6 separate regions of the Homo sapiens genome follow, and regions 1, 2, 3, 5 and 6 are each linked to region 4. The links come from fine-mapping of genetic effects on gene expression. A gene starts in region 4. Each other region holds a variant in brackets. All regions are shown on one strand. Distances are from middle to middle. Region 1 overlaps CSGALNACT1 (chondroitin sulfate N-acetylgalactosaminyltransferase 1). Region 2 overlaps CSGALNACT1 (chondroitin sulfate N-acetylgalactosaminyltransferase 1). Region 3 overlaps CSGALNACT1 (chondroitin sulfate N-acetylgalactosaminyltransferase 1). Region 4 holds the start of CSGALNACT1 (chondroitin sulfate N-acetylgalactosaminyltransferase 1). Region 5 overlaps CSGALNACT1 (chondroitin sulfate N-acetylgalactosaminyltransferase 1). Region 6 overlaps CSGALNACT1 (chondroitin sulfate N-acetylgalactosaminyltransferase 1).

Evidence for each region. PIP is the estimated chance that this variant, and not a neighbour inherited with it, causes the effect.
Region 1: its variant is the best candidate, but not a certain one, in a credible set for the expression of CSGALNACT1 in skeletal muscle (GTEx, PIP 0.65).
Region 2: its variant is the best candidate, but not a certain one, in a credible set for the expression of CSGALNACT1 in prefrontal cortex (BrainSeq, PIP 0.79).
Region 3: its variant is the best candidate, but not a certain one, in a credible set for the expression of CSGALNACT1 in esophagus mucosa (GTEx, PIP 0.72).
Region 5: its variant is the best candidate, but not a certain one, in a credible set for the expression of CSGALNACT1 in whole blood (INTERVAL, PIP 0.62).
Region 6: its variant is the best candidate, but not a certain one, in a credible set for the expression of CSGALNACT1 in left ventricle (GTEx, PIP 0.85).

The regions. Positions count from the first base shown.
Region 1 is chr8:19,420,342-19,424,438 of GRCh38, forward strand. CSGALNACT1 (chondroitin sulfate N-acetylgalactosaminyltransferase 1) reads right to left here. Exons shown (of 9, transcript NM_001354483.2): 6 at 1-177. Among named protein-coding and RNA genes, the nearest start is that of SH2D4A, 110 kb to the left of the region's middle. The variant C/A (reference allele first, on the strand shown) is at 2,300.
Region 2 is chr8:19,451,892-19,455,988 of GRCh38, forward strand. All of the region lies in intron 4 of CSGALNACT1 (chondroitin sulfate N-acetylgalactosaminyltransferase 1), which reads right to left. Among named protein-coding and RNA genes, the nearest start is that of SH2D4A, 140 kb to the left of the region's middle. The variant T/G (reference allele first, on the strand shown) is at 2,136.
Region 3 is chr8:19,514,167-19,518,263 of GRCh38, forward strand. The region is part of intron 2 of CSGALNACT1 (chondroitin sulfate N-acetylgalactosaminyltransferase 1); the gene reads right to left. Among named protein-coding and RNA genes, the nearest start is that of CSGALNACT1-AS1, 160 kb to the right of the region's middle. The variant C/T (reference allele first, on the strand shown) is at 2,378.
Region 4 is chr8:19,755,180-19,759,276 of GRCh38, forward strand. It overlaps CSGALNACT1 (chondroitin sulfate N-acetylgalactosaminyltransferase 1), which reads right to left and starts at 2,098. Exons shown (of 9, transcript NM_001354483.2): 1 at 2,007-2,098.
Region 5 is chr8:19,702,838-19,706,910 of GRCh38, forward strand. All of the region lies in intron 1 of CSGALNACT1 (chondroitin sulfate N-acetylgalactosaminyltransferase 1), which reads right to left. Among named protein-coding and RNA genes, the nearest start is that of CSGALNACT1-AS1, 26 kb to the left of the region's middle. The variant T/C (reference allele first, on the strand shown) is at 1,649.
Region 6 is chr8:19,687,344-19,691,440 of GRCh38, forward strand. All of the region lies in intron 1 of CSGALNACT1 (chondroitin sulfate N-acetylgalactosaminyltransferase 1), which reads right to left. It overlaps CSGALNACT1-AS1 (CSGALNACT1 antisense RNA 1), which reads left to right. Exons shown (of 2, transcript XR_007060841.1): 2 at 1,381-2,219. Among named protein-coding and RNA genes, the nearest start is that of CSGALNACT1-AS1, 11 kb to the left of the region's middle. The variant C/T (reference allele first, on the strand shown) is at 2,453.

The DNA.
Region 1 (4,097 bases), 330 kb before region 4:
GGCTGTGTATTCAGCCTACACGTATTGAGGAATTCAGATGTGAAGTAGATGTCCACATCACAGAAAAAGAGAAGGACGTTGCTTCCCTTCCAGAAGCGGGCTCCAACATCAAGTCCCTTTCCCCGAGAAAATTCTCCATTCAGCTGGATGAAGGTAAAGTTCCTGAAGTTGGCAGCTCTGAAAGGCAAGACCAGGTACTGTCACTCACATTCCCACATGTTGGCAGCATCCCCTGAGAAAATATGTAATCAGGGCCCATCCACATCTTGACCCATTTCTTTTGTAACCTGAGGGCACTGGGACTCCCCAAGAAGTTACAGAACGGCCCAGACTCACAGGATACTCACTGGGATCGAAGGTACCAAGAACACCTAGTGGAGTTTTAACACTAATTTCTTCCTTGTTTCTCTGGCAGTTTCCCCGTATTGAAAACACTCTTGTCATCATTAATGACTATTCTTTGTGATGGAGAAAACTTGAACCAGGTAAGACTAGAAACACAACCCTGGAAAATCTTCGTGCATCCTGAGCCAACCGAATGAGGCCACTGAGCCAAGGAAATAAGATCACATTGCAATGGCCCCACTTAGCATCTTTTCATCTGCATTCACATCCAGGAGCCAGGCAAAATGTTCTTGATGTGAATCTTTCCTCCAAACAGATTTAAACCCAGATTCCTTCCGCATCCTCGGGTAAAGCAGCACAGCATGGCAGGAAAAATGACCAACTTGCAGTTAGAAGAGGACTGTTTCAGGCCTGGCTCTCCTACAGATAGCTCTGTGATCTAGGCCAGCCCATGAATCTTCCTGAACCTCAGTTGCCTCATCTGCTAAATAGGTGTAGTAACACCTTCCTTCACTATCCCACAGGGTTATTAGTGAGATAAACAGTGCCAAGAGTATACAGCACTCTGTAAGCATCAGCTATTGCTGTGATTAGCATGGGCAAGGATTCCCAGGCCCCAGGCAGTGAAGCCAGGATGTTTCTCGCATTCGTTGTTCTTTCCCAGGGACAGCAGAACCTTCTGAAATGGGGCCTGTCTTAAGCTAACGTTCCACGAATTCATTCCATGCCCAGTGGGACAGGTATTGTCTTCTACCAGATAATACTAGAGAACCACCTTCAGTCTTCTTTCAGCCTAGCAAATCCCTTTTCCTGTCAACGACACCCTTCTTTTCCTAATGGCTTCCTTTCCTCTCACACTCCCCGTCCTACCAGCTACCTGGCCTATCCCCATGCCCCAACTTCTCTCTACTGTTTCTTTCCAAAAGGTACAGAAACTCATTTCCAGTTTGTAAAGTTTGCATTCCAAGTACCCGTCTCGGGTAAAGGCCAACGCAAACATAGAGTCATAAACTTTTAAAATGCTAAGTTGTATTTGTATCTGGAATTGAATCAGTAAAACTAGTTCTGCGACTCCCTCCTTGACTCATCTTCTTCTTTTGGATCTGGGAGTGAGCTTGGATTCTTATCTTAGGGATCAGTGAGCCCATGTCAGAGTTTGATGCCAAACATGCCTTTCAGATTTGGATCAGGTTAGGAGGCCTCATGATGGGTAGAGCACTGGTCTAGGAGTCTGGAAACCTGGATCCAGGACTAGAACTGTGCCTGGGGCCCCATAAGTGTTCAACAGATGTTTCTGAATGAGTGTATGAATGTATGAATCATTCTAAACCTAGCTGTGCCTCTGATGGATTTGAGGCAAGTCACTCTACCCCTTTTGTCTCTGTTTCCAGGTACAAAATCCAGTGGTTACAGAGCTCAAATTCCCCTTTACACACTAAGACGCTATTTTTCTTTGGTTAAAAAAACTTACTTTACATATGTACATTATATATACTTGTATATAATACACTTTTTCTTTTAGAGACAGGGTCTTGCTCTGTCACCCAGGCTGGAGTGCAGTGGCATGATCATAGCTCACTACAGCCTCAAACTCCTGGGCTCAAGCAATCCTCTTCTCTCAGCCAAGTCCCAAGTAGCTGGGACTACAAGTGCATGCTACCATGCCCAGCTAATTCTTAAAAATTTTTTATAGAGACAGAGTCTCACTTTGTTGCCCAACTCTTGGCTTCATGCGGTACTACTGCCTCGGCCTCCCAAAGTGCTAGGATTACAGGCATGAGATACCACACCTGGACAAGACTCTATTTTTCCTATGATCCTGCATTCACTTCAGCACCACTCTACATTTGCAGGGATTCTCTTCCTCTTTCAGAACTTTATCTTGAGTCTTTTCTCTGGGGGGGTGCCCCCATTGCACATTTTCTGTGTGTTGCATTGAAGTTATGCTCAAAAC[C/A]TTTTCAGTATTAGGTATGGCACCAGTCAAGGACACGCTATCCTCCCGTCTCCAAAGACATTCAGATGGTGTGAGGTCACTGCGAGCACCTTCATGTCTCTTAGAGGTGTCTGCAGCCCCAGCTCCTGTAAGTCAGGTCAACCCATTTTTCCCTTCCCGGTTTGGTCAGTTTCCAGGAAAGGTTTACCCATGGGAGATGCCTGGATTTTTACCTGTTCATCTAAAGGCACCTGATCCTGGAGTCCATCTTGCTTTAACTTTCTATGTATTTAATATATACAGCCAGTAGCAATTCTCTTTCTTCGCTGTTTCCAGGTTCCTATCTTTTGGGACCTCTTCCTCCCCATTATACAGGGATATCTTCTAACTTTCAGAGCACAAACACAATGTATGAGCAAGTCCTTCCTCACTCAGGTTGCACCTGACTCATAATTCAGGTACCTTCTCCAGGAGGGTTTCTAGGATCTACTACAGGAGAGTTCAACTACAAAAATACCTGAACAACAGCAAGTGACTTTTGCCAAGGGAAGAAGAACATAGGCTCTTAATAGGCTGCATTAAATGAGCTGCGACATCAAGAATCTCCCCCTTGAACAGCCTACAGTCCATTTGTATAGATAGGCCAAATATTTACAAAAGTTAAATCATGTTGAGTAATTAAATAAGAATACAAGACAGTGTTAGAAACTGAGGAAACAGCATGAAAGAAATGACGAGTCTACAAGTGATTGATTAACTGCTGAGTGAACGGTAGAGACAGTGCTACAAATTTAGAGGGAAGAGTGGTAATTTGGTGGTGTGCATGCTTACCTAATGCACAAGTTAATCTAGTTTATTCTGTGCATGAATCCCCTAACCCTGGCTTGAGCTGTTGCTAATAAATGCTGTTCTCTCCTCTGCTGCAACAGAGGATTGGGTACAGGATGGGCTTCCTGTCATAGTCATGGGAAAAGGGGTGGGAAGAACTTAAGGTACCTAGTGTCTGACATGACCTTAATTTGGAAGAACTTTTTTTTTAAGCCTTAAAATGTAAATCCCTATGCTTCCATGATGTGTTGCTTCTAGAGAAAGAAAATTCAGGCAAATGGATGCTGGGGAACACTTTATATGGCCTAATGCAAAAGGCAATTTGCTTCCTTTCTCTTCATGCAACCTTTCTACAAGGAAAAGACAATGCATGTTATATCCATGGCACTACCCAATCTGAATATGCATTTTGAATTCACTTCATGTGTCCACAGGCTGCACAGAAAGCCCTGGGAAGTGGTACCCAGCTCTGTCCACGCACTGTTTCCATGTGGACCATATGGGGGCCGGCGCACACACACACAGCACCAGACACCTCGGCTTGCCTGTTCTCCCTGCCCCACGCAGGACTCTGCCCTGATCTAGCTTTGCCTGGGACTTTCATCCACCCTGATCAACACTGGCCAGAAGGCAACATTGCTGGCTTGGCAGTATGGGTCCATGTTAGAGCTGCTCTGAAGCCCTGACCACTCACCAGGTCCTGATGAGAGAGCTGAACATGAGTGTGCACAGAAGGCAGGGTGGGGACAGAGTCACTGCTGGCTTGGGAAGCACCATCAGGCAGTCACAGACACTGGAGAAGGCCCAGAGTGCTAACTCTGTCATCCATCTGTGTTTCCCAGGGTGGCTGCCAGGTCATTATGCTCAGCTAGGGGTCCGTCTGAGGATGAATAATGGTACAATTTTCCTTCCTGATTCCTCAACCCAAGGCTTTTTTCCAATAAACCAGTGATCTGAAAGAACCCCTCCAACTCCTCTCTTGCCATCAGGA
Region 2 (4,097 bases), 300 kb before region 4:
TGAGATATATGAAGCAACACATAAAAGATTCCTCAACCAACTGTATGAGAGCAAAGGGTGTTGATATTTTAAAGGTGATGCATGGGAAGGATAATGCTTTAAATACATTAATCTGAAATAGCAATCATTGCAAACTGTGTGCCAAAAATAGTTGAAAATGGCAACAATTTTGCCACCAATAAATGACCAATGAGGGAGACATAATCTTCTGCTGTCAATTTCAACAGAGTGGAGACCAAGGAAAGAAATGGAAGTTTCTACATTAGCTTCCTGTGGCTCCTGGCCCCACTGACCGCCTCCAAAAGGGAAGCTCGTTGGCGAGAAAACAGAGGAGACACAGATTCAGGTGAGAGAAGGCAGCCTGGGGGACCTAGGGAAGACACAAGAGACCTTGGCTTCCACCTAGGACCTTGGCACCAGCAGCAGGAAGAGCCACAGCAGGCTATTTTGGTATTTCTACAAATTTTAATGAAAGTGGAGAGGGAAGGTAATTCCATCCTAATTACTTGTGAACTAACCCCTGGGGGAAAAAAAAAAAAAGCAGGGAAGGGGAGATTTGACATAAGCAAAGGAAAAAAGCTAATCACATTTAGTCAAGATCTTTTATCTGAAGAGTTAGAGGAGAAGGGATGAGACATGCTGAGAGCTGATGACATATATGCATCTCCCCCACATCCCACAGAAGCGATAGAAACAGAGCCAAAACTTTCCTTTTTCCTCTGACTGGTAGGCGTGGAAAGAGCTGCTGAAGATGAGCAAGTGAGCAAGTGAGCTGGAGACGTGAGTAAGTGGGACTGACTCTTTGTGATGTCCCAGGCCTCAACCCTTACTTGAAGGCCATTATGAGAGCCAAGTATGATACCTCTACCCCTTGGGAAAACAATTAATTCCCCCTACACCAAGCGAGCCGGGCAAAACTCACATATCCATCCCAGGGCTCAGAAGAGCCACAAGAAAAGGGAACTTCAACAAAGGCTGCACAAAGCCCCTGGGGGTTCTTCCTCTCCTCCACCCAGCTTTTACACTACAAATAAACTAAACAGAGAAATACCCTGTCCTCAAAATATGCACAACAATTCTCAGTCAAGATGAGGAGAGAGCCAAGGAGAATCCACCCAAACTATGTTCGAGCAAACAGAAGGCTGGGTAGTCCCCTGCACGTAATGAGAAAAGATAAAAAAGAAATCATAGCAACCACATCCCAAGAATCAGAATAAAATTAAAAGAAAAAGTTAAGAAATAGCATCTAAAGCAAGAGAAAAAATGGGTCTGAAAGAAAATGTAACTCAAACAGAAGAAAATTTCTTAGACATGTTTCACACTTTATTAACAAGAATATGAATTTAATTTTTAAAAAGTCCAAAGAGAAAACAATAAAACAACAGAATAACATTAGCAGGCACACTGTGTGCTCGGAAAATAAATCAACAGCCAAAATGCACAGAAGTAATGCATTAGAAATAGGAAGGTACAGAATAGATATGTCAGAAAATCAAATTACTGACACAATAAAGGTTTAAGTAAAAGCAGATAAAAGACTAAGGGTGTTAAAAAAACAGAGATGCTAATAAATGGAGAAGACCTGTAAAATATATAATTGTGTCCATGAAACAGAGAATCCAATAAATGAAGCAAACAGAACTCAAAAATAAAGCATCCAAAAATTTCCCTGAAAGAACCCACAAAGCAAAACAGGAAACTGTACTACAGGAAAATCAGTTAAAGAACAACAGACGTTGGCCAGGTGTGGTGGCTCACACTTATAATCCCAGCATTTTGGGAGGCTGAGGTGGGCAGATCCCCTGAGGTCAGGAGTTCAAGACCAGCCTGGCGAACATGGTGAAACCCAATCTCTACTAAAAGTACCAAAAGCAGCTGGGCGTCGTGTCATGCACCTGTAGTCCCAGCTACTCGGGAGGCTGAGGTACGAGAAGCACTTGAACCTGGGAGGCAGAGGTTGCAGTGAGCCAAGAATGTGCCACTGCACTCCAGCCTGGGTGACAGAGTGATACTCCTCCATGAGAAAGAAGGAAGGTAGGGAGGGAGGGAGGGAGGAAACAATAGAAGCTGAGATGAGACATATCCTGATTAAGTGAATGTGATTAAAGACTAATGAAGGAATTTTTCAGGCATTC[T/G]GGCAAAAGCCGTTTACGAGAGAGACAAAGTAAAGTGGTCTTACACTTCACCAGATCATTTAATGCCAGAATATCTACAAAGTCCTGAGGAATGACAGTGTGTCCCATGAATTTTAAGCCCAGCTAAGCTGACTGTCCACGATGACAACAAGTATATACTCCATTCTCAAACACTTGCGACGTTTCTTGAAAAAATTTCTTGACCATACAATATAGCCAACTAAGAACTCAGGAATGGAAAGCTATTGGAAGAGGACTGCTGATGAATACATTAAATCCACTTAAATCCAGAACTGCAGAAACTGTAGTTATAAAGTAGAATGTAAAGGTTGTAACCCTGTCAAGGTCACAGTAACAGATTGCAGCCAGGCACGTGGCTGACGCCTGTAATCCCAGCACTTTGGGAGGCCAAGGTGGTCAGATCACTTGACGTCAGGAGTTTGAGACCAGCCTGACCAACGTGGTGAAACCCAGTCTCTACTAAAAATACAAAAATTAGCCAGGTGTGGTGGTACATGCCTGTAATCCCAGCTACTCGGGAGGCTGAGGCAGGAGAATCGCTTGAACCTGGGAGATGGAGGCTGTGGTGAGCTAAGGTTCTGCCACTGCACTCCAGCCTGGGTGACAGTGAGACTCTGTCTCAAAATAAATAAATAAATGATTGCTAACAAAAATCAGAAGATGAGACACAGAAGGCAGAAAGTGTAGCTGTGCTGATTTCGTTTTGTACTGAAATGTTTCAATCAAACTTACAAAATGTAGTAAAAAAAAAAAATATTTCCAACCACTTTTTGTTTTGCAAAAATCACTTTTTAACTTCAGCGAGATCTCTTGGGAACTAATGTCTCTCACAGTGAAGACACATTTTCTTAAAGTTCAGCAAATCCTTTATTATACTTCCGGTTTTTTTCTATAAATTTAAGCAAGATACATTTTAATTCTATAAGTAGAAATAGAATGTATAGTATATCTCATGTTGCACTGACTTATTCCCAGCTGGCAAGCAATTCTTCTATCTGCAGATATGCAAAGAAAATTGCCCAAAGTGATGTTCAACTCATGTTAATAAGGGTTAATTCTAGGAGGTGAGACCTGGAGTGACTTTTTAAATAATTTATTCCTCGTGCTGTTCTACACTGCTTAAACATCTTATAATAGCCAAGTATTACCTTTTACAAACTAAAAAGTCATGTTTAAATTATAAAATCCAAAAATAATCTTTCACTGAATCTTTAAACAAAATATAAAACATATGGTAGCTATATAAATATTTAGAAAACAGAGGCAAAAAAGGAAATACAAATCGCTTCCAGTGTCATCCTCAGTGTCAACCACAGTTCACAGTCTCCAGTCTGGGGATGGAAAGGAATTTATAAAGACAACATCAAATATTTATTAAGCAGCCCTTTATATTTTCTCCCAGTAACTTTATGGTCATGTTAATTGCATTTAATTATTTAATTGGAGTTTACTTTGCTTTTTTGGTGTGAAATAAGAATCACATTTTTTTCTGCTATGTTTGGCTAGTTGTCCTGACACCATGCCCTGAATAACCCCTTCTTTGGGTTTGAAATGCCATCTTTAATAAGGTTTTATGAAGCATTAAATACCCACAGGTATTTACCCTCTCGCATCCCAGTTTTTCAGAGACATCAACAGTCTCAGAAATGCCTTGACTGTGACATAAACTCCCTACTCAGCCTCCTGCTCCAGTGTCAGCTGTCCTGGCCAGATTCTCTTTGTGTCCCATTGTCCCCTGTCTGTATCTCTGCCACAGCGCCTGGCTCTGCATTTGCAGCTTCTGCTATTAGTGAAAGTAGGCACCGCATCTTCAATTCATCTTCTGATCCCCTGCACCTTGGTAGCATGTCTAGCACATGCAAAAGGCTCTCAAAACATCCTCTCCAGGTCACAAGTCTTCCGCCACCCATCCCTTCCTACCTCCACGAGCAAGGGACATCC
Region 3 (4,097 bases), 240 kb before region 4:
CAAATCCCAGCGAGAGGACAGGGGTCCCACTGGGGAGTCAACAATTAAATGCCAAGAGTTTGGAGTTGGCTGTGGAAGGATCTGAAGCCTTCTTCCCTGACCCCCTCCAGCCCTGACACCGAGCTACTTAGCACAGGTACTGGCTCGGGTTTCACACAGACAGCAATCTGTGTGGACAGCTGCCTTGGTGGCCCTAGCAGTTTTGCTGCTTTTCCTCCTCTTTCCTCAATACTCAAGACCAGCTGTCTCCAAACATTAATTAAACAAAAATAGCACATTTCAGGCATCATATGACTTTTGAACAGAGACTATATATATATATATATATATATATATATATATATACATGTATCTATTTAAAAATTATATACAGGCCAGGCACAGTGGCTCTCGCCTGTAATCCTAGTGCTTAGGGAGGCTGAGGTGGGCAGATCCCTTGAGGTTAGGAGTTTGAGACCAGACTGGCCAACATGGTGAAACCCCGTCTCTACCAAAAAAAAAAAAATACAGAAGAGAATTAGCCTGGCATGGTGGCTCATGCCTGTAGTCCCAGCTGCTTGGGAGGCTGAGGAAGGAAAATCACTTGAACCTGGGAGGTGGAGGTTGCAGTGAGCTGAGATCACTCCACTGTACTCCAGCCTGGGGGACAGAGTGAAACTCCGTCTCCAAAAGAAAATAAAAATAAAATATTAAATACAAGCTTTATAATGTAGTATTATGTATTTACAATATATCTAAAATAATAAAGCGTAAAATATTTTTAAATAATATTGTCTCACCCTGATGGACCATCCTGGAGCCCACAGATACCTAGCTCCAGGTTTCCAGTAGTTGATCTTCTGACTGCATTACAAGTGTCCTTGGGGCAGGGCTCTTGCCACAACTGATTCCAGGTCCCCAGTGCCAGGATCATGCCTTGATCCCCCATTCCTTCGGGAACCCAGCCTCAGAGTGCCTTTCCTGCCTCTGGACCCCACTGTCTCTATCTCAGGTCCCTAGCACCTGCTGTCAGGCCATGTCCTTTCCTGCCTCTGGACCCCACTATCTCTATCTCAGGTCCTCAGCACCTGCTGTCAGGCCATGTGACCAAACTGCCGGGACTCCACCCACAACCCACTTCCCTTCCTTCCTCACCCAAAAGACTTAGGCTCAGCCTTCAAGATGCTCCTTGAGTCTTCCCTGTGAGGTCCCCCTATCTGCAGACTCAGAGGGCGTGTTCTCCAGGGACCAGCACTGACCCAGCCCAGGGGAATGGGCTTGCAAATGACTTCACAGTCAGGAATTCCCTAGTTGGGAGGGATCCTCCATCCCCTCAACTCCTCGTTGGTCTTTTAAAAGAATTCTCAATAGAAAAGCAACTGAGAATAAACACATAAGTGTAAATCAAAAAAATAAATAACTAAGTAAAAGAATTCTGATTCAATTTCCCTGCCTTGAAGCAGAAAAAGGGAAATGTGGCAAAAAGAAGCTGGCACCTGCTAATCAGAAAATGAAAGCACACTGATCACAACCACAAGCACCAAAAGGTCAAGAAACAGACTCAAGTCCTATTTTTTTTTTATTTTGATTTTTAATTTGCTGGCAAACTTTTAGAGAGGAGGCTTGATGGAGAGGGGCTTCCTGTCTATGCCAGACCGTCTAGTCCCATTCCTTACAACTGCCACCCTTGCTTCAGGAAGACCTAAGGCAGGTAGTTGGCATGGGTGGTGGTCATGGACCCCAGAAGGTGCAATGAGGGCAGGACACTGGCATAAGAAGATGCTACTCAAGCCAGGTGTACAGAATAAAGACGCTTCTTCCAGCTGTAAGACATCTCAAGCACACATGTGGGGCTGAGTCAGCTGCCAAACCCCGCAAGGAGACCTGACTCCCGGAGTCTTTTGGGGCTCTTGGTGCCGGTTCTCACCCCAAACTGAGAACCGCATGAAACCAGCCTTCCAACACCCTCCCCTCGTTCATAATTACAAGCACTTAGTGAGCATTTACGTTGGGGCCAGACATCATACAAAGCACTTCACAAATATTATCTCATTTAATCCTCAAAACGATCCTATGAGCTACATCTTATTAACCCCATTAAAGAAACAGAAACTGAAGCTTAAAGCAATGAAGTAACTTGACCCAGATGTTCAGCTGGCAAGTAGCAGAGCCCAGCTTCAAACCCAGCTCCGTCTGATTCTTACCCACTACGCTATACTGTTCAACCCGCTTCATAATCTCAAACTGCTTGCTGAGACCTGCTCCTCATTCTACACCCAGCGTGTCCAATTTTTCTTGTTTCTGAACTCATAAATATTATTTATGAGCTTGCCTGGCCCCTCAAACGTGGCATGAATCACTGCTTCTCTAGTTAAAATGTTTTGTACCCCCATGTAGC[C/T]GTGATCTGCATTTACACATCTCTCAACAGCTAGGCAAACTCACACTATCCTGACAAATAATCCCCATCCCGGTGTGAGCCTTGCTCTGTCCCTGCAACTAGGGCCAGGCAGAATATCTTCGCAACATTCAAGTGTTTCTAAGTGATTCCACCAGACCCTCCAGCCGTGTGGCCTCCACAGACCAGGCTCTGGGTGGGCTGGGGGAATGTCACCCATTACTCCTTGGGCCTGGCCCTTAGGCTTCCATGATGGGAGCCCCCAGGAGGGGGTGAGATGCTGGAAGTGGCTGCTTTCTGGGGATCGAGGTGAACACAGCGGCCACGGCAGTCTCAGTGGTTCAAGTGCTGCCTTTGCTCCTGGAGTTTCCATTTCCAGCTGGAATCTGCAGCCACATTTATTTCCTGTTCTCCATTCCCTACTTTGGCCATGACCCACTGCCCACCTGGAGAGGTGGTTGGTTTTTAGTTGAGATGCCTCAAACCTGATATGTGGGTGTAAGACGCCAGGAGTTTATACTCACATATCAAGTTCGAAGCATCTCAACTAAAAAGCATCACGGCAAGTAGAATTTTTAAGCAACTAAGAAATGTTCTTTGAAAGAAGAAAAAGAGGGCCAGGCATGGTGACTCACATCTGTAATCCCAGCACTTTGGGAGGCCGAGGTGGGAAGATCACCTGAGTTTGGGAGTTCGAGATCAGCAGCCTGACCAACATGGAGAAAAACCATCTCTACTAAAAATACAAAATTAGCTGGGTGTGGTGGCACATGCCTGTAATCCCAGTTGCTCGGGAGGCTGAGGCAGGAGAATCGCTTGAATCTGGGAGGCAGAGGTTGCCGTGAGCCGAGATTGCACCACTGTACTCCAGCATAGTCAACAAGAGTGAAACTCCATCTCAAAAAAAAGAAAAGAAGAAAAAGAGAATATCTCTAGAAGGGTTAAAGTGATCACTGTGGAAGGCTCTCCTGCAAAACACTGTGTATTAGTCTGTTTTCATACTGCTGATAAAGACGTGCCCGAGAGTGGGTCATTTATAAAGAAAAAGAGGCTTAATGGACTCACAGTTCCACATGGCTGGGGAGGCCTCACAATCATGGCAGAAGGGGAACAGTTCGTCTTACAAGGCAGCACTCAAGAGAGAATGAGAGCCAAGCCAAAGGGGTTTCCCCTGACAAAAACATCAGATCTCCTGAGACTTATTCACTATCAGGAGAACATTATAGGGGAAACCACACCCATGATTCAATTATCTCCCACCAGGTCCCTCCCACAACATGTGGGAATTATAGGAGCTACAATTCAAGATGAGATTTGGGTGGAGACACAGCCAAACCATATCACACTCAGTTCTCTCTTCTTTCCTCTAGAGCACTGCAAAAGTAGATGCCCATGTAATGGCCATGTGTCAAACTAACATTCTTCTGTGCAGGCAGAAACCAGCCCTGGCACTGGGGAGACTCCAAGACTCAGGAAAGTAAGCACCTGGAGAGATCAGGGTCTGAGGTAGCATCACACAGCTTCTAGAGAAATGCATGCTGTTAATTAACAAAGAGGGGACTAATTTAAAAATGAGCAACACTCCCCAGCCAAGTACTTTCTGATACAGGAGTTAAGAAGCAATCACTTAGGCAAATAGTAAGGGTATGGGAGTCCTCAGTAAGGCTTTCTTTTAAATGAAAAGCAGCCCCAAATCATTTTCTAACTAAGAGCAGCCTGAAAA
Region 4 (4,097 bases):
ACAGAGCTAGAGCAACATGAAGATTGGTAAGTATCATTCATCATCATATGAACTTAGGATGGATTCTTAGGAAGATACAAGAAAAAGCTGAAGTATTGCCCCAAAGTTTCAACTCCTTATTTTCAACACCTATACTGGGCAGTATCTGAGATTCTCCAATAAATAATCAATAGATAAATGAATAGAAAGTAGGGTTACAAAGAAGAAGGAATTTTTACAATTTTTTTTAAATGTTGAAACATGCTGGAGTTGGGGATCCCTAAATGTAAAGAAAGACAAAAAAAAAAAAAAAAAAAAAAAAAGACAACATTTATGAAGTGCATACTGTGTGCTCGGGGCACTAGGATAAGTTCCCAAATGTAATTTCCTCCTGCTAAACATCTCTATAAGGTGAGGAATACTATTGGCATTTTACAAATTAGGACACCAAGGCTAGGAAAGGGGAAGTAACTTGCCCAAGGTCATGCAATTAATAAGTGGAAGAAGCCGCCTGGAGCTCAGGTCTCTGGAACAGCAAAGACACAAGCTCACTGCACTGTAATGTAAACGGATGAATCCAAATGTCGGAGATTCTGCTTTAAAACCCACTAATACATTTTACAAATAGACATATAAGATTTAGCACACAAAGATGAACAGGATTAAAGTATTTTGATATTGTATTATGTGGAGTACATATGGTGTGGCAGCTCAAGGCAGACGAATTATTAAATATGTACGGTGATCTTACAATGGGTATGGCCCGTCTCTTGCTTTCTAGGAATTGACCATCTTCCGGCAGCCCAACACCTAGTCCCCTGTGTATTATGCACTATTACAAAACGTGTTCAAGTCGCCTTTTATGCCTAAGGCTTACATAAAAATTCATCTTGCCTTTCTGCGTCTATTTCCAAGTTTGAAGGACCTTTCTCCCTCCAATTAGCAACATTTCAGCACTGCACAGGGCTTATTAATGCTCACTGTTGCAAGTAACACCAAGGTAATTTGACTTTCTTGTAGGAACAATGTCGACGAAATCCTACAGAATTAAATTTAAATTTCCAGTTTAAAAAAAAAAACCGTGAAAGAACACTTCATTACCTTTATTATCTAGACGTATCTAATGACGTTAAGTAAAAACTGCACCAAGGCTTTGAAACCAGAAGAAAAGTGGAGTTTGTGAAATTTAACCACTCCATGCTTTTTATTAGTATTTCACTTATGAGTATTTCCCGAGGCTCACTGTTTTGGCAGGCACAGTGCTGTTAACATCTCTTCCTTTCTCACCATTCTTTGCTCATCGATGAAAAGATAACTTCAAAATCTCTGACAGGAATGCAGGTGCAGGAAGTGCGACGGAAACAAACAACTTTGCCTCCGCTTCCTACAGCTTTCCTCTCCTCCCCGCCCTTCTAGCCCCCATCCCACCCCAAGATCATGCCCTCGAACAGCTTCTGCCCACCGATCGCACGTCCCCTGGGCATGTTCGGGCAGCGGTGACCCTCAGCCACATCCCCCACTAGCCCGGTCCCGGGCAGGCGAGCGCGCTGCCCACCGGCCACCCTCGTCACGCCCCCTCCACCCTCTCCATCCCAGCCACAATAATACAATAACCGCAGTCATCGCGCGGCACGTGGAAAGGCTACTTTTCAGTGGGTTTTGCAGAAAGCAATCAGACAGCGGAAGGCCACGAGAAACGCTGGTGAAGCCAAACCGACCCCGGGAGCGCAGCGGCCCCGGACCCTCCCTGGAAGCTCCCTCCGCGTCCCCGCGCGCCCACCTGGAGGCGCCGCGCCCTCCGCCTGCCAAGCCGGTCCCCGGCCCCTGCCCGTGCCCTGGGCCCCCGGCGGGCAGCGGCGGAGGGAGGCCAGGCGCGGCACCGTCCTCCGCAGCTGCACGAGCCACCCCGAGGTCGCGGGGTGGGCGGGCGCGAGCTAGGCGCGCGGGGCTGTGGGGATCTGCCGGCGCCACTGACGCCCCCGCGCGGCACACCGCGCCCGGCTGGCCCGGGAGGGGACCCGACTCACCCGAAGCGCCCTGCTAGCTGCCCGGCCCGGCTCCGGCCGCTGCCGCCGTCGCTGAACTTTCCCTCCTGCGCGGCCGCCGCGGACTCGGCTCCACCTCCCGCTCCGGCAGCCGCGGAGCCTCCAGGGACCCCGGGGGCGGGGAGCAGCGGCGGCGGCGGCGGCTCGGGCGGGCGGGCGCAACAGCGGCCAAGCCTGGCGCCCCGCCGCAGGGTAGGTCCGGCGGGGGCGGCCAAGGCCGGGCTGGGGTCGCGGTTGGCCGCGTACCTCCGCGTCACCCACGGCCTCTCTGCAGTGCGTCCCTGCGCCCGTCGGAGCGGCGCCCTGGCCGAAGCCTGTCACTCTCGGAAGGGGCCGCGCTCGGACACCAGGGGCGGTTTACGCGTGACTGGACACCAAGAGCCGGAGAAGTTTAGAGACTAGGACACTGTGGCGTGGCCCGAGTTGCAGGAGAGAGGTGTCCAATCTCCATGGGGTCCTTACTCTTGCAGGACAGAGTTCCCCATCCCCCTGCTCCACCCGCTCTGTTCCCTTGGCTGCCCTCCCCGCCGAGCGCCGACTTCCATGCAAAAACTTTGTAAATCGCACTTCGGGGAATTCACGCTTTAGTCGCGGTCTCTGCTGCCCTGGTCAGCTATAACGCCTCCCCTAGAGAGCTTTTACTTACAGCGAAGGTCAGGAACCCCTGTAACTCTCACACCGCACCACTGTGGGTAAGCGATGTCTGCAGGGACCCCTGACGGCCACTGGGAGGCCAGGAGAGAAGAGGGAGAGGAAAGGCTAAAAAGGCAAGTGGAGTGTTGGGTAATAAAAGATCCACCGCCACCTCCAGCACACACAGGCAGGCACCCTCCAGGGCCACAGGTCGCCTTTTATCTGTAAGTGCTCCAGCGCATCTCTGTGGGAGAGGGAGTTGGGAAATAGGATCGCCAATTTTCAGTGTAATTGAGGGGGACTCAGGAGGAGTCAGTTAGACTGGAAGAGGTCATCACCTGCAGATGCGGTTAAGCAACTTGCAGAGGCCCCAGGGCTGAGCCACCGCAGAACCGGAGCTGGAAACCAGTCCTATGACTCCTGAGGCAGTGCTCTTTCTACTACCTGGCCATGGCTCCTTCTACTGCCTGGCTCAGAGTCTCCATCTGGGAGATTCCGGCGCACCAGACTTTATTGTGGGCACAGGGTAGGCAGTCCTGAGGCTATAGGCACAGTCTTGAAGCAGCTCGGTTTCCATTAAGCTCCTGCTTACCTGCAGGAAGCATCCCTGAAGCAAGTTTTGCTTCCCACCTGGACTCCCCAGGTGGACCTATCCCCACCCCACACCCTGAGTGAACTCTTCACCCTCGTGACCTAATATACCCACTGCAATTCAATTGAGACTTGGGAAACAGGGAAGTGGGTGTTTTCCAAATGAATGAAAAATATGTCTATTCTGCTACTGCCCCAAAATGCTGCATAATGGAGGTAATAAATAGTTAACACAGCATACGTACACACATACATAGGTACAAGCCATTGGCCAAGGCTCCTTCCCACATTATCACACAGCACCCTCTTAAGGCAAATCATGATACTCCCCATTTTGCAGACGGAGGGCAGGACATGGAGGCTGGCGTTGGTTATGAGTTGTGTAAAGGTTAGAACCTTCACAGTCAAGCACTCTTTGGGTAACCAAGTAACCTCTTCAGAGCCTTCCCACTGCCACCGAAGCATTCCTACACCTCCCTATATTGGCAGGTGTGTTGTCAAAGCATTGATTTTCTTTCCTCTCCTGAAGCATCTCCCGTCCTTCTGCTCAGTGATATCTGCAGAATTAGAAAATACAGTTTCAGCATGGAATCTGGTCTGGAAGACAGCCCAGAGGACTTGAGCAGTAACTGCCAGGGCCCACCACAGACACACACGGTTGGACTCAGGTTCTAGACTATGTGGACAGGCTTGGGGAGGGTGGAGGAGGCGTCCTTGTTGCTGCAATTGGTTCTATAGCTGTTATCTAAAAGAAAGAGATAGAGGCCGGGCGCGGTGGCTCACGCCTGTAATCCCAGCACTTTGGGAGGCCGAAGTGAGTGGATCGCCTGAGGTCAGGAGTTTGAGACC
Region 5 (4,073 bases), 52 kb before region 4:
CTGGGTTTCAGGGTCTCCCCTAAAGGGAATCAGTGTAGCCCAGCCCCCCACCCAGTAGCCCCCACTTAGACCAGGGCCAATGACTAGATCCACTTCTTCCCCTACACCCCTCTTAGCCCCCTTCCTGGTGTGGGTTCACTTCCCTTTATATCTCATCTGATCAACATGATCACCGTGGACAGAATTCAAGCTCAAAAGGGAAACCTGTAACCCTATGGATGTCTGAGGCAGGGGAAGAAGGGAGGTCATTGGGAAGTGCTCACTAGTGTCCCTCCAATAGGATGCTACTGTCTTCTGATCTATTACCAAAATAACCCAAGACCCTGAAATCGAGAGCTTTTCCTTCTCAACTAGACCCATGGCAGCTCAGCCCTTGTTCAGAAGGAGCCATTGACGTGGCATGTGACTTGGGATTTGAGCCACTCGAAGTTGTTACATAATAAGAACAGGCTGACCTCTCTTGGTTTGTTGGTTGGTTGGTTTTGAGACGCCATCTCACTCTGTCACCCAGGCTAGAGTGCAGCGGCGGGATCTCAGCTCACTGCAAGCTCTGCCTTCCAGGTTCATGCCATTCTCCTGCCTCAGCCTCCTGAGTAGCTGGGACTACAGGCACCTGCCACCAAGCCCGGCTAATTTTCTGTATTTTTAGTACAGACAGGTTTTCACCATGTTAGCCAGGATGGTCTTGATCTCCTGACCTCATGATCCACCCGCCTGGGCCTCCCAAAGTGCTGGGATTACCGGTGGGTGTGAGCCACCATGCCCAGCCCTCTCTTTGTTTTTAGTGCTCCTCAGACCTTCAGGTAACTGGAGAGTTGGTTACTACTGACTGCACAGCACCTTCCACAGTAAAACAAAGTTTAATCAATACAAGAAATCCTCTCATGGTCTGCATGTCTCCCTGATTGATACAAAGTTATCAGATTCATTCACTCAGAACAACATATTCTACACCAAGTAATTTTTGTGATTAAGTTTAGTTCTCTACAAAGTACGTTACAATTAACAGTGTTTTTTAGGAAACTGCCCATGCACTGGCTTTCCTCCCTTATCCTACACGCAGCTCTCAGGAGCCTCTTACATAGTACGGGTGCATATCTGGCAGTGACATCTTTCCTGAGAGCTGTCAGACCCTTGAGGGTATCATCTATGTCTGATTTGCTCTTCCAGCCCCACTCAGTAAGCCTAACACACTACACTGCACATGGGAGATCTTACTTTTTAAAGTTTTGAATGAATGAAAGAATGAGAATGCTCTGAATTAACCAAGCTTGATGGTTAATTACATAATTACATGGATCATTCTTATTCTCTTCTCTCCCTCCTTTCCTCTCTTCCATTTCCCCCAGTCCCTGGAAAAACAAGGCACTAAACGAATGTGCTGCCAAAGGAGAAAGAAGAAAGGTAACAGGGCATTTGAATCACAGACCCTTCCAGGCCGATATTATATTGTTAGATGGAGAAGAAATTTTGAATTTTTCCAAAGTACCATTAATACTTTTTAAAAATAAATTTCTTGCATATCAAAACCACAGTCATCTATCACTTCACACCTTAAGATGGCTGTGATGAAAAAGTCAAAAATATCAAGTGTTGTCGAGGACTTGGAGAAAAGGGAATCCATATACATTGTTGATAGGAGTGTAAA[T/C]TGGTATAGCCATTATGGAAAACAGTATTGAGGTTCTTCAAAAATTAAAAATGGAACTACTCTATGATCCAGCACTCTCACTTCTGGGTATATACACAAGGAAATAAAATCACTTTTTCAAAGAGATACCTGCACTATTTTCACTGCAGCATTATTCACAATAAGATATGGAAACAATTTAAGTACCCATAGACGGATGGATGGATGGATGGGTGGATAAATGGATGGATGGATGGAGAAAATGTGATATATACATAAAACAGAATATTATTTACCTTAAAAAAGTAGAAAATCCTGCCATTTGTGATAACAAGGATGAACCTGGAGGACATTATGCTAAGTGAAACAACCTAGACATGGAAAGAAAAACATTGCTCAATCTCATTTCAATATGGAAGTTTTAAAAGTTGAACTCAAACAGACTAAAAGGGTAGTTACTGTGTGAAAACAGAGTTGGGAAATGGGGAGATTTTGCTTAAATGATGCAAACTTTCCATTACAAGATGAATAAGTTCTGGTAACCTACATCATAGTGACTGTAGTTAATACACGTATTGCCCACTTAAAATGTGCTAAGAGGGTAGATCTTAAGTATTTGCACCACAAAAAGGTACTATGTGAGGTGATAATTAGCTTGATTATGGTAATCATTTCACAACATATACCAAAGCATCACATTGTACACCTTAACTGTATGTAATTTTTGCCAATTATACTTCAATAAACTTGGGGGAAAAACAAATAGAAAGTAAATCAGTAATTCTACCTTAAGGATAGTAACTCAAGGGTAGCTATTTATGCAAAGACTTACATCAAGAATTCCATTAACTCAGGGAAAAACTGGAAACAATTTAAATGTTCAATAATTATTTTCTAATGCATTTTTATGCATCCATTCAATGACATGTTTTTGAATAATATTTAGAAGGAAAAAGCTCATCATTTGAATTTTAAAATCCAGGGAAGGCTGGGCACAGTGGCTCATACTTGTAATCCTAACACTTTGGGAGGCTGAGGCAGGAGGCAGGAGGCTTAAGCCCAGGAGCTCAAGACCAGCTTAGGCAATATGATGAAACACCATCTCTACAAAAAATACAAAAAATTAGCCGGGCATGGTGGTGCATGCCCATAGTCCCAACTACTCGGAAGCCTGAGGTGGGAGGATTGCCTGAGCCGGGGAGGGGGAGGCTGCAGTGAGCTGAGATCGCACTACTTCACTCCAGCCTAGGCAACAGAGCGAGACCCAGTCTCAAAAAAAAATCCAGAGAAAAAAATGTAAGGCTAGAGTTTCAAAAATTGTACATGACATATTATGAATAGATGTTTAATATATAAATACAACCATAAACATAAAAGTAAAGCAACATTCCAGAATGTTGATGCTAGTTAAAGCTGAATAATCGAATGACAGGGCACGACTAATTTTCATTTTCTTTCATTTCCTCGATTATCTTCAATTACCTTGTATTACTTGATTATCTGAATCCCCGAACCTCCCCTCCAACATGAAGACAAAGGCAAAAAAATCTGGAGGTGCAGTAGCTACAAATAAACCCAGACATGGAAAAATACTAATCAGATCAAATAAAAACTAAAATAGATTTCTCCACCTCCCAATCATACAGGGCCCTTACAAAGCAAATAGCATGCAAGGATGACAACGGGGGACAGCTGTGTGAGGCCTTATGTCTTTGTGAACTCACCAAGCCTTCCCCAATGTCATAGTTAATTCATTTAGATTAGGGAGAATTCTGCTTCATGCTCTAAAGGTATTTTACAAAAAGGCAGTCATTGTCCCTGTGGTTTGTGAACTGAAGCCAGGCTCAATCTGTATCTGTATTGTCATAAAGAGAATTTCCTCCACATCCTCAAAGGAAGTGTTACTTCCTAAAAGGAAAACTGCGGCGGAGGCTGGGGAAACCTAAGAGAGCAGTGGAGCCACGGCAGCCCATGAGGTCAAGGAATTGAATAACACAGGCACTAAAATCAGACACTGGAATACACTGAATCAGGTTTAAAGGAGTGCCTTTTCCTAGCCCCAAGTCCACAAAACACCCAGAAGGACATCTCTTTAGCCTCCAACCACAAGGGAAGAAGAGGAATCATTTTAATGGGGAACAAGTAAATAGCAATAATAAATGTTGGCAGTGGGATACCTACCAGAGCATCTGCAGGTCAGGCTCCTCCTTGTGTGTGAAGCCCAAACCCCAGACATCAGGTGTGGGCACTCCCGGCTCAAGCAATCCTCCTCACCAAGCCTCCCTAGTAGCTGGCACTACAGGCATGCACCACCATGCCTGGCTACATTTTTTTAAATCTTTTGTAGAGACAGGATCTTGCTATGTTGCCCAGGCTGGTTTTGAACTCATGTCCTCAAGTGATTCTCCCTGCCTGGCCTCCCAAAGTGCTGAGATTACAGGTGTGA
Region 6 (4,097 bases), 68 kb before region 4:
ATCCTCTGACCCATCAGAAGTTTTGCTTTAGAAAAAGAGTATAGCTGCTCCAAAAGAGATGCCCCACTAAAATATATTATATATGTGCATATCACAACAATCTCAATGTACAATGCCGTACAGATGTGATGCAAATTACTAAAAAAAAATGAAATTAACTAAAATGGAAGTTCTTTTCACATAGAAGTTAATTAGCACAAAGTATAAACTGGATTATGTTACTCCGTCCATGTTGTATGCCTTGGTCCATTACCACACTAATATAATTCCTGAAATATCAACCATTTCTCACATGTCAGAGAAAATTTGGCTTTTAAAGACATGCAGTTCCAGAAATGAAACTCCATTCACCTATTATCAACTCTAGTCTTTGATCTTTACTCCTTATAAAGAAAAAGACTACATAAAGACAATACTATTATTACTATGTCCATTACAACTGTAGATCATGAAGCAAAAATTATTGCTGTTTTTCAATGGCTGACACTTCCAGGACAATTTCTTGTAGAAGTCAGTAAATGGAAAAGTGACTGAAGCAGATACTGTATAACCCTCAGAGGAAAAAGAATCAAGTTTCTGAGAACACATAAACAGCCACTGACTTACAGGATGACAAATAATCAGTTTCTTACATCCGTGTTGTGGTTTGCAAGGTACAATTTACCGTTTAGAATCTACTTTATAGGAGTCATCAATCTCACAGCCCTCCTCTCAAAACATCCCTCTGAAGTAGGTGTTCATTTCCCATTTTACACATGGCCAGTTGACACCCCCAGAGTGAACAACTCTCTGACTAGATCAGTATTTGGTCCCTGGAGACATCGGTGGGGCCTTCTTGAAGCCCTGTGTCTTCCCATGGGCTGCTTTCCTCAATGGGTAATTTAGGGAAATAGATGGAGTTGATTGGTAAGATCTTTGAGATCAGGGTGAGGAGAACAATTCATACCTATAGGGACGTCACCAGGGTTGCTGCAGCATCCATCCACATGGGAGATTGATTCTGTAAAAAAAAATCTCTTTGGTCTAATATAAAACAAAATGGTAGACAAGTGGCCACACCCTGAAGGGGAAGGCAAGGGGTCACGCAGGTGGTGGGCAATTGCTAAGTGACATTTTTCTAAAGGTGGAATTCCTTTGTTCTAAAGCAAATGTTTAACCAGTGCCCATTGTATATGTGCTGTGCCAGGAGCCCTGCACTTAAAATCCAGAAATTATGTCACATACATGATAGAAACAATGCCACCTTATACTTTGCATTGACTCCTTCCCTTCACCCTATTCTCTCATCTTTATTTTAAAAAAAGAAAAAGCTGATAAAATAGATAGGAATATGAAAGCTCTCTCAGCCCACTGTATCCTTCTCCCTCTTTCCTGTCTCAGCTAAGCACTCTGAGAGCATCGTCTACACCTGCTGCTTCCAGATCATCATCTCCCAGTTGTTCCCAGCAGCCCAGCAGTCTGACTTCCATCCCTACCATCCCAACAGAACTGCCCTCGCCAACCTCCTCCACATGCACCATGGTCCGAAGATAATGAACACTGCTCAGGACTCGCCTAACTGGGACAAAATTGATTCCTATCTGGACGTGCAGCCATGCATGTCCACGTAATTATGGATAACAGTGCAGTGTCACCTTAGCAACAAGTGATCAGTCTTTCATTTAGAAGCCACAGTTTGGCTAGGGTAAATGTTAATGAGAGGCTTCTAATGGAGTATGGCAGTTTTAAAACATACCAAAATCTTTGATTCTCCTCTTAATCCATCTCCTATTGCCCCGTCCTCTGCAATCTGGGCCAAGGAGTACAGCACAGCAGTAGCGATGCCATGTGCCTTCCAAGACGATGTCATAAAAGACTGTATTATAGTTCTCCACCTGGTTCTCCTGGAACAATCACTCTTATAACCCAGCTACCATGGTATGACAAGGTCCAGGCAGCCCATGGCGTGTTCTACATGAAGAGGGCCATTTGGAGAGGAACCAGGACCCCGGCCCTGGACCCCAACTGAGCTCTGGTCAACAGCCTTTTGAGCAGCCATCTTGAAAGAGGATTCTCCAGCCCCCTGAACGGTCCCAGCTGACACTGCATGGAACCCAAACCTTCCATGCCTAGCCATGCCCAAGTTGCCTATTTCCGAACTCAATAACTGTTGTTTTGAGCCACTGTTTTGAAGAGGTTTGCTACACAGCAATAAATAACTGATACACACGACTATAAAAGATTCTGGCTTCTGCTTAAAAATTCTATGAGAAAGATGCTGAGAATTTTCTATGTATTAAACTATTAAGATTTATAGGAGGCCATTGATTTAGACTGAGCTCCTGCTCTAGGCTTCAACAGATCCAACCAAAATAGAGTCACTCATGCTAAAGTTCCACATCACCAAACCAAAACTAAGCTATTTATCTGACCTGAGAAATCAAGAGAGAGAGATGCTAGTTAAATCCCCAAA[C/T]AGCAAGTTTTAGCATAAAGAAGTCCCCTGTGCTTGAACCCTTACAAGGAAAGTGACGTAGAGTAACCTGATATTAACAATCTGCTTTTTTGCGCTATGCTGTTTTCTTGTTCCTGCTCAAGCCACCTTTTAAAAACCAACCGCCAATGCCTGATCCAGAGTCCCTTTTCTGCATCTTTAGATGAAATGATGCCCAGTTCATGAATCACTAATCATTAAAGCCAATTTGAGTTTCAAACTAAATGTGTTGAATTTTAACAGGACTCAACAAATAAAACACTATATTGTAGAGACAACTGCAGGTATAAATTTACTACAATCTGGATAAAACTTTTTTGGAAAAGGTTCAAAGCAGTTATATTCTAATACATTTCCTAATATTGAGTGGACAATTAATACATGAATACTTTTCAAATCAATTGCTAAAGTAACAGAAGATATAATTTTACCTCTTTTCCTTCCAGAAGGCAACATTAACTGCATTTATAGCCAAGTAATGCTATTTTAAAATCTTCGTTATCCAGATTAATTCTCCATACTATTATAAATTCATCAGTATTTCTAATATCATCCTGCTCCCAGGACTTAGATATCTCTACTTTGGGCCTTAACATTCTGTTTCTGCTAAGAAAAAAAAATGACAAAAGCTACCACAAGTGTGATATATAGAACTATTAAATAGTCAAAGAGCTCATCTTTCTCCTAACTCAGAGTTTGACTACAGCTTACCAAAAATGACAAAATAGAAAACATATATAAAACAGATTTTTTTCCTCTATAACCAAAGCCCACTTGTAATAAACTACATGAGAGGTTCAAATTTGCTTGATCATAATAGAGCTGTTTAAAAATACATGGCTGGAATTCACATTTGCAGTTTGCAGATGGAGCAATAACGATACTCTGAATTAATAATATGTGATTGAAACTCCGCATGGAAGGAGGGGGTGTGTTATCCCACCCTTTCTATCCTGCAAGCCTAGGTCTTCCTAAGGACTACTTTGCTCAACGGGTAATTTGGGAAATTAGAGTTTGTTGTTCAGATGTCTGAGATCAGGGATAAGCAAAAGATTTCACGACTCTGTGAAGGTCACTGGCAATGACCACAGCAACCATTAATAAAGATTGCCTTATTAAAAATCTCCATGGCACTGGGCACTGTGGCTCATGTCTGTAATGCCAGCACTTAGGAAGGCCAAGAGAGGAAGATTGCTTGAATCCAGGAGTTCAAGGCTGCAGTGAGTGGCAATTGCACCACTGCACTCAAGCTTGGACAACAGAGTGAGACCTAGTCTCAAAGAAAAGAAGAAAAACACAAATAAAACTCTCTGCGGCTTATCATAAAATGAAATGTCAGCCAAGGCAAGAGGCCACGCCCGAAGGAGAAAACAGATAGGTCTGAGTGTGGGGGTAATGCTCCAGGCAGCAGGTGGTGAGCAAAGGGGTCAAGCTGGGTTCCTGGGAAGTTCCCCATAAATTTCAGCCAACGATGCACAGGCCTCCTCCCAAACACCGCTGAGCAGGGCTTCTAGATCTCACTGTTTTTGACAACACAGCCAACCTCAGCTACCAGGGTCATTTGGACCAAAAGGGAAAATACCACTAATCAAACAGGGCCCAATTTCTTAAAACAAACAAAACAAAA